Regions from separate parts of the Homo sapiens genome. Here region 1 is linked to region 2. The links come from fine-mapping of genetic effects on gene expression. Tissue or cell type: cerebellar hemisphere. Region 2 holds a variant in brackets; the other region holds the start of a gene. All regions are shown on one strand. Distances are between the middles of the regions.

Region 1 (8,100 bases), 82 kb after region 2:
CGGTGCACACCTGTAATCCCAGCTACTCAGGAGCCTGAGGCACAAGAATTGCTTGAACTCAAGAGGCGGAGGTTGCAGTGAGCCGAGATTGTGCCACTGTACTCCAGCCCAGGCAACAGAGGGAGAACCTGTCTCCAAAAAAAGAAAAGAAAAGAAAAAATGAGCCAGATGTGACAGTATGCACCTATAGTCTCAACTACTGAGGAGGTTAAGGCAGGAGGACTGCTTGAGCCCAGGAATTTGAGTCCAGCCTGGGCAACACAGCAAGACCCAAAAGGTGCATAGGATAAGCACTTCTTATAAACACATACAGGATAGATAAGCACTTCTTATAAGCACTTACATACAGGATAGATAGAATGTTTATCCGGACAGTTAGGATAAAAAAGCATGAAGAAGGACTTGTTAAATGGAAATGCGGAGAAAAGGCAGTATGGAAAAAAATAAATTATTTTCACTTAGAATGGTGTATGTAAACACTGCAAATTCTCTAACACCTTAGAGAATAGCACAGAGAGGGCTCGGTTGGTCAGTAAGAAACAAGAAGCATTTTATGTAATTTATTTTATTTTATTTTTTTGAGACGGAGTCTCGCTCTGTCACCCAGGCTGGAGTGCAGTGGCGCGATCTTGGCTCACTGCAACCTCTGCCTCTCAGATTCAAGCAATTCTCCTGCCTCAGCCTTCCGAGTAGCTCGGATTACAGGCATGTGCCACCATGCCCGGCTAATTTTTTTGTATTTTTAGTAGAGATGGGGTTTCATCATATTGGCCAGGCTGGTCTCGAACTCCTGACCTTGCGATCCACCCACCTCGACCTCCCAAAGTGCTGGGATTACAGGCATGAGCCACCACGCCTGGCCTATTTTATTTTCTTAAAAATAAAATAGGAATTCAAGCTGGCCTTGAATTCCTGAGCTCAAGTGATCCGCCTGCATCAGCCTTCCGAAGTGCTGGGATTACAGGTGCAAACCACCGTGCCCAACTACAAAAACTTTCTATCACTTTGACAGTAACTATTACAAACTTAGTATCTCAAAATTATCAGTACGTCTCTGAAAACACAATGCCTTTACCAATGATTTTTAAAATCGTTCTGTGGTATTCTTTGTAAAAACTCCAAACCCCAGTCTAATCATGAGAAAAACATCAGGTAAACCCCAAGTTTAGGGGAGGGGAGTATTCTACCAGATATCTGGCAGCACTTTTCTAGACTGTGATGGTAATGAAAAACAAAGGAAGACTGAGAAACTGTCACAAACCAAAGAAAACTGGGAAGACATGACAACTAAATACAATGTGGTAACTTGGATTCTGGAACAGAAAAAGACATTAAAGAAAAATTGGCGAAATCCAAATAAAAGTCTCGAACGTTTCATAGTGCCAAAGTCAGTTTCTTAGTTTTAACAAATGTACTGTAATAACGTAAGATGTTACTAATAACTGGGTGGGAAGTATGAAGAAACTGTATCTTTGTGACTTTGCTGCGCAACTAAGATACTCCAAAATAAAGTTTATTTTTCATTATTATTATTATTTTTTGAGATGAAGTCCCGCTGCTCTTGTCCCCCAGGCTGGAGTGCCCTGGTGAGATCTCGGCTCACTGCAACCTCTGCCTCCCCAGTTCAAGCGATTCTCCTGACTCAGCCTCCCGAGGAGCTGGGATTACAGGAGCCAGCCACCACGCCCGGCTAATTTTTGTATTTTTAGTAGAGATGGAGTTTCAGCATGTTAGCCAGGCTGGTCTCCTGACCTCAGGCAATCCACCCGCCTCAGCCTCCCAAAGTGCTGGGATTACAGGCTTGAGCCACCGCGCCCGGCCTAATAAAGTTTATTTTTAAAAAAAACAACCAAGGGACAGTCACCTAATGGGCTACTACTCAGCAACACAAATAATCTACTGATAATCTACAGATAAAGACAACAGGGATGAATATTAAAAATGTGCTGAGTTAAAAGAAGCCTTTTATACCAAAGAATGCATACTGTATGATTCCATTCATGTGGAAAGTCTGGAATAGACGAAAATAATCTATGGGTTTAAAAAAAAAAATCAAGATCAGCCGGGCGCAGTGGCTCACGCTTGTAATCCCAGCACTCTGGGAGGCCGAGATGGGCGGATCATGAGGTCAGGAGTTCCAGACCAGCCTGACCAACAGTGAAACCCCTTTTCTACTAAAAATACAAAAATTAGCTGGGCGTGGTGGGCGCCTGTAATCCCAGCTGCTCGGGAGGCTGAGGAAGGAGAATCGCTTGAACCTGGGAAGCGGAGGTTGCAGTAAGCCGAGATTGTGCCACTGCACTCCAGCCTGGGCGACAGAGCTAGACTCCAAAAAAAAAAAACCAAGATCGTGGTTGGCTCTGTGGTGACTGGAAGACGATTTGAAAGGACAAGAAAAAACTTTTGAGGGTGATGGCGATGTTCTACATCTTGACAAAAGGTTTAGGTTACACAGCTGTATTTTTGTCAACGTTCATCAAATTGCATACTTAAGACTTGTGGGTTTATACTGATGTGAATTTTACCCTCTAAGATTTAAAAAATAGTAAGCGGTACTGAGCTCTATTTAATATGCACATACTAAAGTTGGAGGGGTCTCCAACTTTACTTTGAAATGCATCGACAAATAAGGTAAAATGTTAATTACAGAATCTAGGTGGAAGTATAACTCTTTTTCACCTTCTGTTTGAAAACGTATGTGATAAAACCTTGGGGGAGAAAGGCACTGACTACTCGACCTCACTTATCACCACCGATAATCATTTTCTTTTGGAGTCTTTCCTAAACTCCTTGGGGCTTATTTCTAATCATGATCAGCATCTGCACGCTCTCGTATATGTAAAAGAAATTAATGAATTATGAGGGCCTTTCTAGACAATCATGAGCCATGTTTCTGCCAACCCTTGCTGTATTTGATGTGCTTTGATGTACTTCTACTTTGTGCTTTGATGCACCTCTACATCAACCTTCGCTGAGCACAAGGCAATTCCCCCTCCTTTGAGTCCTTAGATTCCCACCCAGTCTGGGAATTCACGATAGAAACACGACGGGACACAGAACTAATATAACCAAGATGCCACCACAAAATTCAGTTAAATGTGCTGAAACATGAGGCGGTAAACTGTGTCCCCGACTGTTTCGGGTTTCTGAACCAGCAGCTTTGTCTACGAAACACACATTCAGGATACCGTGTAAGGGTTAGAACATGTTACCACCACCAACTGTTGGCAGTCAAGACAGTAGTTGATAAGCCACCCGTCTACCAATCTCCCTCTTTCTGCCTAGGAACCATGGCGCGGACGGAAAAACGAAGCCATGGTGACTAATCCTCAGGCTCCAGGAGGTGACTGGGGTGAGTGAAGGCGACTTGACCCAATCAGGAGCGCCGCAGGGGCGGAGCAGCAGCCTCGAGGCTTCCAGAAGGGGCCAAAAGCCTCTCGCTGGCTACCTGACACCGGGGCTTCCCCGCCGCCAGGCCCCAAGTGGCGTCAACTTTCCTCCACCAGAGGGGGACCGCGCTCCCCGCGCCCCCCAGGAATCCGACTTCCTCCGCAGCTGTCACCAGAGGCCGGCGCGGGGCCCGCCCCGCTCCATTCATAACCAGGACCCCAGCCGTTGCAGCCCACAGCGCCGCCCGCCCGCCGGGCTTCGGGAGGCAAAGGTGGCGGCGGCGCACCGCGGAGTAGGGGCTGCGGGACCCCGGCCCCTCAGGGCTGCGGCCGGGCCCCCTCCCCGGAAACAGCAATGCACCACGGGAGAGGGGTGGGGGCCGCACGCCGCCAGGAGGGGACGGCGACCCCCGGCGGCGAGACCCCCGCGCGCTCCCCCACTGGCACACGCCCCCTCGCCCCAACTGCTGCGGCTCCGGCTCCGCCAAGCGTCCAGCAGCCGCCCGAAGGTCCTGAGGCGCGGCCCGCCGCCCAGCCCCGCCGCCGCCGCCGCCGCCGGGGGCACAGACAGCCGCCGCCGCCATGTTCGAGGCGGCCGGCCGCGGGGCGCTGCGGGGACGTCTTAAGGGCGGCGGGGCCCAGCCGGAGCCCCCCAGCCGCCCCCCAAGGCCAGCCCCGCGTCCTGGCCCCTCCCGCGCTCCTCGGCTCGGTACTCACGTGAGATAACGGCCCAAAGAGTCGGGTAAAGCGTCTTCTCTTTTTCGGCGGAATTTTTAAAGAGGGATGTGGTTACCTTGAGCAGAAATACCCAAGGCGGCCTGGGCCATAGGCTGCGGGAACGACTTGGGGGTAAAAGCGCGGCACCGACACCAGCTGTGTGCAGCAGTGGCGGCGGCGGCCGAAGGAGAAATAGAACAGCGCAGGCAAAAGAAGAAAGGCGCGGGCTGGGTGGGAAGAGGATTCGGACTCGTCACACTGCAGAGCAGCAGAGCGAGAAAGGATGAGAAGAGGCAGAGAAGGCGACGGCAGAAGAAAAAAGGAAAAACTGCGGCCGCGATCAGAGCCTGAAAGTGTGAGAAGGCGGCGCCAGCGACGCCAGTATTTATATTAGGGGGCGTGGCCTGGTGACATCACAGCTGGCCGGGCAGCCGCGCGAGCGGGGCGGAACCCGGTTGCAGCCCGGAGAAAAGGGAGGGGGACGGAAGAGGAAGGAGGACTGAGCCCGGGAGAGAGAGGGGAGGGGTCGGCGCGCGACCGGGTCATGCAGGTGCAGACTGGCCGGTCGCTTCCCGCCCTCCAGCCACCCGCAGCTCCCCGGCAGGCGAAGGGCGGCCGCGCGGGTGTGGGCCGAGAGAGGGAGGCGGCTCGGCTGGAGCGCGCCGTCCGCCCGACCCCCGCCGCCTCTCGGGCGCCTGCGCTCACGCTGCGGGGCCCAGCGCATTGTGAGCCGGGTCGAGCTCCACGCTGGCAGCGTCTGAGAGCTGTCCTGGGCCGGAGGTGGCGCGAACCCTGTGCGGCCTAGAGTGGGCCTGGGGTAAGCCTGTCGGCGCCGCTGCCGAGCCTTCGCGTCCAGCTCCCTCCGCTTTGTGAGGCCTGTAGTTTACCCTGGGGAGTGTCCTCCCGGGCTGAGGCGCCCGCCCTCGGTGATGCGGTACTCCTTTAGGGAAGCGAGTTCCTCGTGGCCAGAAAGGACCGGCCCAGTGTCCGGGTGTTAAAAAGGGTTGTGACCACGTGAAAATGTCCTCAGTGCTCGAACGTTGCAATACGGTGCAGTGGAAATTTTTTAAAGGAATATGGCTTTTATGTCTTCATTTTTAAAAGGATTGGTGGAGTCAGTCCCAAGCAGGACCCGCGTTGGAGAGGGGATTACTGATGTTACAAGCGCACATTACTTCAATCCCCTAGGTCTCATTTTCGCGGTCGTTTTAATTTTTCTACTCCACAACAGACTTTTTTTTACTAGGGGTTCTAAGATTACCTACATAGCTTTTAATTTATTTTCATCTTTTTTAGATGCCTCAGCACTAATGATCATGATCAGAGACCCCGAGTTCTCTCGTGCTGCTACGCTTCGCAACACATAGCACAAATGGAATATGTGTTGACACACCCCTCTGAAGTTAAGATCTTTGATATTAAGACCCTGACTTTTTTCCCTTTCATTCTTCCGAACCCTCTGTGTACTTTGAGCAGCACTGTGGTTGATTAATAAATCATCAAATGTGAAAGGAAGAAAGCGACCTTCCTGTGTGGAAAAGCAGGGTATCTTGCGAGGCTGTATGAGAGAGTATTCGGTAGAATCAGGAGCTGTGGACGCATTCCTGATTTTGTTTTTCCTTATTTTGCTCGGCTATATCTTGGCTCTGTCTTTTATTTCTTCAAAGTTCTGTTCTATTCAGAACATTTGAAAACACAGCCATTCACTAGACCCTCTCTGGTGGAGGAAGAAAAACTAGAGATGAATACAATATTTGAAACCTTGCTTACAATCTAGCAGGGGAAATAAGACAGCAATACAAAATAAATTGTTGGCTGATACAAATAAAATGCTGCAAGGACCAAGTGGAGGGAAGAGATGATTGCAGCTAAGTGAGAGAAAGGCTGCTGGGGAAAGGTAAAGAGTGATTTTGAGAAAAGCCTTTCTAGACAAAGGTGCTTCCTTTTTCACCAAACTCGCCTGTTTGGTGATTTTGAGAGTAGATGTTCCAGTGTTCCAGGCAAGGGAAACGGATGAGAGAAGGCACAGAAGTGGGTGGGTTTAGAGAATTGTGAATAGCCTTTCTGGTTCCAGCATAGGGGCATGGTTGCAAATGAGATTGAAACGGTAGATTAGGGTGACATCAAGAAGACATTGGAGGCTGGGCGCAGTGGCTTACACCTGTATTCCCAGCACTTTGGGAGGCCGAGGAGGGCGGATTACCTGAGGTCGGGAATTCGAGACCAGCCTGACCAACATGGAGAAAACCCGGCTCTACTAAAACTACAAAATTAGCTGGGCATGGTGGCACATGGCTGTAATCCAGCTACTCAGGAAGCTGAGGCAGGAGAATCTCTAGAACCTGGGAGGCGGAAGTTGCAGTGAGCCGAGATCACACCATTGCACTCTCCAGTCTGGGCAACAAGAGTGAAACTGCGTCTCAAAAAAAAAAAAAAAAACAAAACAAAAAATTGGAACTTGGACTTTATTCTGGAACCATATAAACAGGAACATGATATGCTCAAAAATATGTTTTTTAAAAGATTACTCCAGCACCAGTGGGTGGGATTGAAAAGAGGTAGAAAGTTTGGAAGTGAAGGAAACTCTTACAGCAGTTTTCTGGGGTCTTTTGGTTTACTTATTTATTTATTTTAGTACTAAGGGGGCCGGGCGTGGTTGCTCACTTGGTGGCCTAGTGATGGTGTGGTGGCCTAGCACTTTGGGAGGCTGAGGCGGACGGATCACTTGAGGCCAGTAGTTTGAAACCAGTCTGCCCAACATAGCAAAACCCTGTCTCTGCTAAAACTACAAAAATTAACCAGGCGTGCTGGTACACGCATGTAGTCCCAGCTACTTGGGAGGCGGTGGCAGGAGAATTGCTTGAACCCGGGAGGCAGAGGTTGCAGTGAGCTGAGATCGCACCACTGCACTCCAGCCTGTGCAACAGAGATGTACTTTGTCTCAAATAATAATAATAATAATGAAAGTACTAAGGGGATTCAGAATGGATGGGAGGGAAAACGCACAGAGAGAGTAGAGATAATCTTGACTTTCAAAGGAGATGAGAAGGTGTCAAGTGATTTGGGGATATTAAGCTTATCAACAGGGAGAATTCTGGAGCCATAAACAGAGATAGAAATAGAAGGACCCTGCCAGGAGCAGTGGCTCACGCCTGTAATCCCAGCACTTTGGGAGGCTGAGGCAGGCGGGTCACGAAGTCAAGAGATCAAGACCACCCTGGCCAACATGACGAAACCCCGTCTCTACTAAAAATACAAAAATTAGCTGGGCATGGTGGCATGTGCCCTGTAGTCCCAGCTACTTGGGAGGCTGAGGCAGGAGAATGGCATGAACCTGGGAGGCGTAGCTTGCAGTGAGCCGAGATGGTGCCACTGCACTCCAGCCTGGGCGACAGAGCGAGACTCCATCTCAAAAAAAAAAAAAAAAAAAAAAAAAGAGGGAGTAAGATGAGGCTAGGTTTTTTTGCCTTTTGTGTGTGTATGTGACAGTGTGTCACTCTGTTGCTCAGGCTGAAGTGGAGAGGCATAGTCTCGTCTCACTGCAACCTCCACCTCCTGGGACCAAGTGATCATCCCACCTCAGCCTCTGAGTAGCTGGAACTACTGGTGCACCACCATGCCTGGCTAATTTTTTGTGAAGACAGGTCTTGCCATGTTGCCCAGGTTGGTTTTGACCTCCTGGACTCAAGTGATCCACATACTTAGGCCTCGCAAAATGCTGGGATTATAGGCATGAGCCATCACACCAGGCCTGAGGCTGCTGTGATACAGAGTTTTAGCTGTTGAAGAAATAGCCAGGTAAAAATGGTCCAGAGGCCTCTGAAAATGGGGAGATCTAGAACCCTTTGGGTGTGAATTTGGGAGCCTTTCCTACAGACATGATAATTAAGGAATTATTGAGGTATAGAAGAAAAGAGTATAAGCACAGGATCTAGAGAATGCCAGAGATAAAAGACAGCCGCAGAGAAGACCAAGAGGCCGAAGAAAATGACAA
Region 2 (8,100 bases):
TTTACCAGTCAGTAGTAAGAAGCCGGTACTATGGAGCATCTGCCCTTGAGGCAAGGCTGGCGCCCTCCAATCCAACCATGCACACATGCTGCGTGCACACTCATCACTCTGGCCGTGTCCTGTACATCGACTTTGAGTTTGTAAACTCTGCTCCATTCTTCCAGGATGAAGAGAAATAGCAGAGCCTAAAGCATACGCCTTTCGGCTTTCCCAGCTGCAGCGAGTTGTATTCATGTCCCTGCTGCCTGGCCTCTTAACTCCACTCTACTAGAGCATTTCTCACTAGAATAGAACTTCCAGAAGGGAAGGGCTTTGTCTATTTTGTTCTCTGCCATCTTCCTAGTGACTACCGTGGTGCCTGGAACACAGTAAAGGTCAAAAGTATGTATCAAACAACTACAATGATAACACTTCACATTACTAGGATGGCTATCATCAAAAAGACACCAAGTAGCCAGGTGTGGTGCTGCAGGCCTGCAGTCCCAGCTACTTGGGAGGCTGAGGCAGGAGGATTGCTTGAACCCAGGAGTTCAAGACTTCAGTATGCCATAATCTCACCTGTGAGTAGTCACTGCACTCCAGCCTGGGCGACATAACAAAAAAAAGAAAGAAAAGAAAAAATAACAAGTGTTGGCGAGGATGTAGAAAAATTAGAGCCCTCATTGCTGGTGGGAATGTAAAATGATGCAGCCACTTTGGAAAACAGTGTGGCGGTTCCTCATATGTTAAATGTATAGTTCACACAAAAGCCATCAATGCCACCCCTAAATATAGACCCAAGAGAAAGGAAAACAAGTGTTCAAACAAAAACTTGCACATGAAAGCTCATAGCGGCATTATTCATAACAGCCAAAAGGTGGAAACAACCCAAAATGTCCATCAAACAGTGAATGGACAAACAAAATCTGGTACTTCCATACAATGAAGTATTATTTAGTCATGAAAAGGAATGAAGTACTGATACATGCTATGACAAGAATTATGCTGTAAAAGAAGCCAGATGCAGAAGGCCACATGTTGTATGATTCCACTTATATAAAATATCCAGGACAGGCAAGTCCATAGGGACAAAAAGTAAAGTAGTGGTTGCCAGGCCCTGGGAGGAGAGGGGAATGGGGAGTGACTACTTCACAGATACAGGGTTTCCTCTGGGGAGGAAGATATTCTGGAACTAGACAGTGGTGATGGCTGCACGACATTGTAAATGTACTAAATGCCACTGAATTGCACACTTTAAAATGGTTAAGACGGTGAATTTTATGTTATGTGTAATTTACCACAACAAAAAAAGTTTCGGATGAATGAATGAATGAGTGAATAAATGAGTCTTCCACCGCCATGCCCTAAAGGCCAGGTGTTGACAAGGAAAGTCTAAGTTGTCTCCAGAGTCCGGTCCCCACCCCACCTTCATCCTTGCGGTACACCATCTGTCCTGGGAGGGCAGGCGGGGCCCAGCTCCAAGCTGAAAATGGGGCAGAACAAAGCTCCTTGGCTCTCCATCTGCTTCCAAATCTGGAAGACGGAGTGGGCAGTCACGCCCACCACTCAAGACTGCTGGGAAGACAAGCAAAAGTTCTCTGCACACCGTAGACCCGCAGTGAGTACTGCTTCCCTTCCAGTCCTCCACAGGGGAGCTATCGCGGGAGGGATTCCTCAACCCACACAGCACCTGGCTCGGGGTGGGCTGGCTGCATGTTGTGGGATCCTGTTGGGGCCTGGACATTTGCTGTGCAGGCGAAGTGCTGAGAACACCACCCCTCAAAGTTCCACCTGGCAGGTGTCCATCCCTATTAGTAGAGCCCACGGTTCCCAACATTGTACTGCACACAGCATGGCACTCCATTACTACCTAATTTCTTGAGGATCAATGAAAACACACCTGCTTTCAAGCAGTGGAAACTTCATCCCCGAAAGACAGTCCCTGCCACAGGCTGTGGCACTCTTGAGTGATGGGCTGCAGTGGTGGGGTGTAGTGGACAGCAGAGTCACTGGAACCTGGTGATACAGAAAATGGCAGAAGCCACTGGATCTGGAGTCCTGGCTCTGTCCTTAAAGGAGTGGCTTTAACCTGTATGCTCCTAGGCTTTTGTGAGAATTTAAAAAGACTAATGCGGGCCCCGCGCGGTGGCTCATGCCTGTAATCCCAGAACTTTGGGAGGCCAAGGTGGGTGGATCACCTGAGGTCGGGAGTTTGAGACCAGCCTGGCCAACATGGTGAAACCCTGTCTCTACTAATACAAAAAATTAGCCGGGAGTGGTGGCACATGCCTGTAATCCCAGCTACTCGGGAGGCTACTCAGGAGAATTGTTTGAACCCGGGAGGCGGAGGTTGCAGTGAGCAACAGTTGCCTGGTGACAGAGCGAGACTCCATCTCAAAAAAAAAAAAAAAAAGATGAATGCACCTAAAATGGTGTTATTGTGCACCCCTATACATTTTACCACTGTCATGCACCTAATGTGAGTGATCACTACATGTCAGCATGAGCATCATCTAACATCCTGCTCTCTTTGCATCAGAGCTGACTATAAATAAAAATTCCACTCTGTCCACATTCACAACCCATCAGGGAATCTTGATCTCAATGGATGGAAACCAGATTACATTGTAGTGATTCCACCATGACGGCGGCATCTGCTCCCTAACAGCCACTGTGGTGGGCATTTTCTCAAGGTCGTCTCTTTTGGTTCATTCTTCCAGGAGCCTTATAAGGTGTATTATTTTCTCCTCTTTATATATGAGGCTGAGAGGTTAAGTCACTTGCACAAGATCACATACCCAGAAAGTGAAGGCACTTCAAAGACTGCACCCTTCCCATTCATTTATTCATTTATCCTACAAGATTCATTAGGGGCTGACCACTGTGCTGGGCCCTGGGGGAGCAGATGACCAGACCTGGCCCTGGGCCTCACTGAATGTACCAGCTAGAAGAGAACAAGTAGACAGATGATTTCAATGATGAGGGGATGCGAGTGACCCAGTGAGGAAGAGGGGAGGGCTCTCCAGGAACATCAAGCGCTTGTGTAGGCAGGGGTAGGAGACAGCCTCAGGGAGGGTGGGAGGATGGAAAACTGCAGAGAGTTTTGATTACCTGGAGAGCAAGGGAGAAGAGTGGGTACCCACAGTGGTGGTCAGGCCAGATAACAAAAAAGCACTCAAATCATGATGAAGAGCTCAGAAGCCATCCCCTGGGCAGCCGGGAGTCACTGATGAATTTTAAGCGGGGGAGTGATACGATCAGATTTTCTGTTTCCATGTCCTTTGAGCCTGCAAATGTTCCATAAGACCCACAAAGCAGCTGTAATGCAATCCCCCTACACACCTTCCTGGCCTGTTCATTTTTCACCCACATACATTTAAGAGTCTTGCTCATAGGTCAGGAAACAGGCTCTGAGGCAGACTTACATGGGGCTTACTAGGGAGATAGCTAGAGCTACGCCTGCAGGGAAGTCAATGAAGCAGGATTGGGTAGGGCAGAGGCTGAACTGAGATGCATTTGCAACAGAGACCTCAACTGGTCCTGTGGAGAGCTCAGAAGCCCGGATGTCCCAAAATAATGCAAGGGGCCAGGTCTGTGTACCCCCTCATCAACAATTATTGTATGCAGGTGGCACGGGGCCCATGGCCTTGGACCAGGCAGCTCCCTTCGGCTGAGGGCAGCGTCTGGGGAGGGACTCAGCTATGAGCAGTTAGCAGGCCACACTTCCTGCTACTGGGGATGGAGGTCCTGGGTCGTGCAGAGGGTCTGGGTGGGACACTAGCGTCCATTGCAGCCTGCTTGGCT[CA/C]GAGATCTGTGCCAACAAGTCTTGATGTGTGCTGTTTCCTGGCTCTTGCCCCCATCTGCTTCTGCAGGAGCCAGTCCTCTGCAGAGTTCCCCTTGAATATGTCAGGACAGCAGCCAAGACACAATTCCTATCTTTTTCCCCCTCTCCTCTTCTGCCAGGGACCAGCTCATGTACTTCCGCAGTACCTGTCAAACTCTTCCCCCACCACTCTACCTGGCTGCCTATACATGAACAGACAGAGCTATGCAGTCTTCTGTGGCAAAGCGGGGTACAGAGTATTCCCCTTTGTGGCACACTCCCCTAAAGGAACCCTAAAGAACTTTTGTGCCCAGCTACTCAGGAGGCTGAGGTGGGAGGATCCCCTGAGGCCAATTCGAGACCAGCCTGTGCAACATAGCAAGACCCTATCTGAAAAACAAAAAAACTCCTAGGCTTCAGTTTACAGGGTTAGCTCCTTGACTTACTCCCTGCTGGGCTGGGGAGTTAAAATACCTAAAGCTGTGTTTCTCAATCCTGGCTGCCCAGTAAAATCCCCTGGGAAACATTTTATAAATATCAACGCCTGGGTCCCACCCCCAGCCCAATGGCATCAGAAACTTTGAGGGTGGGGCCCAGGCACTGTGTTTTTTAAAATTCCCCTGGTGATTCTAAATATGCAGCCAGGGTTGAGAACCAGTGACTTTGATTTTTATTTACATGGATCAGTCTGGGTGTGTGGAGGGACAGAGGTGATTTGGAGGAGAGCTGTGAGGATCCAGAAGATGATGGGAGTGGAAAAGAGGAGGTAGAGACTCAGAAGCAGAATAAATAAGGGAGCTGGGTAAAGGCAGAACAAGAAAAGCTGGAGGAATCACCTGGGGAGCTAAAGGAATGCTGGGAATGAGCTCCCCACCACCAGGGATCCCTATTTGATCGGTACAGGTAGCTGAGCACTGGGGAAAGACATTCAAAACAGCCAGGTGATTTCAATAGGCTGCAAAGCTGAGAGCCGGAGCTCCAGGCCATGCCATGGCCTCTTATCTGGGAGCCTCACCACGCAGGTGTCCAGGTGGCCTCCACCCAGTGTAGACAAGCCAGCCATGCTTCTCGCCACCTGGACCCTGGGGTGAGGTCTTGAGCAACATCAATTTCCATCCAATCTAAACTTAAATATGGGCACGCCCAGCCTCCCTCCTGGGAAAGCGTCTGAGTGGAGCTGTTCTGCATGACCTGGGTGGCCTTTTGTGACATGTTCTCAGGGGACTCTGTGCTGGGCTGTCTGCTCCTCCTGCCTAACTGTATTGGCACATGGTTTATCCTGTTCAGCATTTTCTTATATAGGTAATCTTTTTCTAAAAAAGAAATTGCTTGTTTTCTAAAGGCAAATGTAACACACTATTTTCCCCAAAAAAAACATGAAGTAGAAAATGAAAATCGCCCTTAATCTCAACACCCAAAGGTGACGCCAGTTGAGAACTGGAGAACCAGCAGCTGACCTGGTTGTCACAGCTGGGGCTTGATGTCCCATTGAGCACAATCAGCGTCTCAGAGCACCAGCACCAGCCAAGGCCACTGTGACTGTGAAGATCGAAACAAAAACAAGAGCACAGTCCAAACCACAAAAATAACCCACCATCCCCCTATCCTGGCTAATGGGTGACTATTTTCTTTGTTTTTGTGTGTGGTTGTTGTTTCTACCAATTTATAGCCTCAGTCAATTCATCTCCATAAGAACTATTAGACACTCATCTCATCCAATCCAGAGCAAAGATCTGCTTCCTTGCACCATCCCCAAGCTTCCAGCTACCTACCCCAGGCCCACATCTTATTATGAGTCCTTTCCTGCTCCTCTTACTGGGACACCCCACGGTTCCCATGGTGTGCGTGCTTCCAAACTGCAATAAGCTGGTAAACCCAACTCCACGTGTGGTCCTGGTGGTCTCTGGCTGGGGCGCATTGACACCACAGAATTTGGAAAATACCCCTCTAGACATTATTTTTTCTATGAACATAGATATATTTTTATTTTAAAAATGAGAGAGGACTGCAATTCTTTTTTTTTTTTTTTTTTCTTTTTTGAGCCAGGATCTCACTCTGTCACCCAGGCTGGAGTGCAGTGGTGTGATTATAGCTTACTGCAGCCTCTAACTCCTAGGCTCAAGTGATCCTCCTGCCTCAGCCTCCCAAGTAGCTGGGACTACAGGTATGCACAACCACGCCCAGCTAATTTTTAAAGTTTTTATAGAGATGGGGTCTCCCTATGTTGCCCAGGCTGCTCTCAAACTCCTGGCATCTAGCAATCCTCCCACTTCAGCCCCTCAAAGCACTGGGATTACAGGAGTGAGTCACCACGCCCAGCCAAGAGAGGACTATAATTCTATTTTGCACTTTAAAAAAATGAGCAATCTCTTAGGAATATTATTTGAAAGAGCTGTTGTTGTACAGATGTTGTAGGCTCACTAATACCACTTTCTAAGTGTGTGATGATATGTTTCTTTAAGGCTTTTGAGAGCAGGATCTAACGCTTTTTTTTTTTTTTTTTGAGACAGAGTCTCACTCTGTCGCCCAGGCTGGAGTGCAGTGGCACGATCTCGGCTCACTGCAACCTCCGCCTTCCAGGTTCAAGCGATTCTCCTGCCTCAGCTTCCCAAGTAGTTGGGACTACAGGTGCGCACCACCACGTCCAGCTAATTTTTGTATTTTTAGTAGAGACGGGGTTTCGCCATGTTGGCCTGGCTGGTCTCGAACTCCTGAACTCAGGTGATCCACTTGCCCTGGTCTCCCAAGGTGCTGGGATTACCAGTGTGAGCCATTGCACCCAGCCCTAATGCTTTTTTGATATCAGCCATGGACTGCTGGCTTTCTTTGGCAAATTCTGAGAAGGATCACCTCTTTACCAGGCTTTGGGTGTGGAGAAGCCACAGGTGAGGGCGGAGATACTGCAACCATTCCCCATGGGGCAGGACACAGGGCCTCTCAGGTGTGGCAGGATAAGTGGCCACACATGCAGAGCCAAGCTTCAGAGCTGGCTTTGAAAGGAGGTTCTCACTCCCCAGCCCCAAAGGTGGCTCCCCCAAAGATCAGGCATGTGGAACGCATTTCACTCTCAGCTTTCAGAATACCCACTGCATTAGAGGGGATTCATTTGGGCTAATAAGGCTTGGAAGCCATTTGGCAGATTTATGTTTCAGAGAGAGGTTCTCCAGGGCAGTGGAGCCAACAAAATTCGGAAACAGCAAGGTCAGTTCAGCTCTGTTAACTAATTCAACACAAGTCCGTTAAATCAATGCCAGGCAATGGGCCTTGTTCTAGCTGAGTGCTCCTCAACCTCTGCTTTGTACCCAAATCACCTGGAATCTGCTTACGACAGACAGATTCCCTAAGTCTGGGTCGGGTCTGAGATTCCGCATTTCCAACAAGTCCATGAGTGCTGCTGATGCTGCCAGGGAGTCACCAGGCCCTTGCTGTCCTGCCAGCATTTGCTACCCCCCTAAGTCTCCTGCAAAACCCCCCTCACTGCCTGCCAACAGGAGCAGAGAGTGTATTGAGGATCACATGACATATTGAGACCTCTCTTCCCACAGTGGAGAAGTCTTCCAGTCCGTGCATGGATGATGCCACCACTGGCTAAATGTCCTCTTCTCCAGCAGTTGAAACAGTAGCTTTGGCTGGGCACAGCAGCTCACGCCTGTAATACCAGCACTTTGGGAGGCTGAGGCAGGAGGATTGCTTGAGACCAGGAGTTTGAGACAAGCCTGGCAACATGGCAAAACCCCGTCTCTACAAAGAATACAAAAAGTAGCTGGGCATGGTGGCACACACCTGTAGTCCCAGCTACGTGGGAGGCTGAGGTGGGAGGATCACCTGAGCCCAGGAAGTGGAGGTTGCAATGAACTGAGATCTCGCCACTGCACTCCAGCCTGGGTGACAGAACACCCTGTCTAAAAACAAACAAACAAACAAAACAAAATGAACCCCAGCAGCTTCGACATCCCTCCCTCATGTGCAGCTGTACCTGGGTGATATGAGACGACACAGACAGGGAGGGATCCCACCTTCCTGCTGGAGAGTTGCCTGGGACTGTTAACAGACCTGCTCCTAAGGAGCCCTGTTCAAGGACCAAAAGACCTAGAGGCCCTGGAGCTCCAGACTAGTACCCTCTGCCCATCTCTAGGATTATCTCCTTATAAAAGTTCATTATTCCAAATTGAGAGATCAAAACACAAGTAGGTTCAAAAGAGTTTAGCTTCACGCCACTGCACTCCAGCCTGGGCAACAGAGCAAGACTCTGTCTCAAAAAAAAAAAAAAAAAAGAGTTTAGCTAACTTCCTGATGGA

The links. PIP is the estimated chance that this variant, and not a neighbour inherited with it, causes the effect.
Region 1: it holds the start of MAILR, and the variant in region 2 is fine-mapped to the expression of MAILR in cerebellar hemisphere (GTEx, PIP above 0.99).

Annotation. Positions count from the first base shown.
Region 1 is chr8:102,859,701-102,867,800 of GRCh38, forward strand. It overlaps MAILR (macrophage interferon regulatory lncRNA), which reads left to right and starts at 4,571. Exons shown (of 3, transcript NR_126339.1): 1 at 4,571-4,923. It overlaps AZIN1 (antizyme inhibitor 1), which reads right to left and starts at 4,463. Exons shown (of 12, transcript NM_148174.4): 1 at 4,107-4,463. RefSeq lists enhancers at 2,607-3,340, 4,809-5,541 and silencers at 3,690-3,919, 4,580-4,929.
Region 2 is chr8:102,777,921-102,786,020 of GRCh38, forward strand. LOC124901999 (a long non-coding RNA gene) reads right to left here. Exons shown (of 2, transcript XR_007061040.1): 2 at 1-1,995. Among named protein-coding and RNA genes, the nearest start is that of GASAL1, 25 kb to the right of the region's middle. RefSeq lists enhancers at 3,651-4,150, 4,829-5,329. The variant CA/C (reference allele first, on the strand shown) is at 3,784.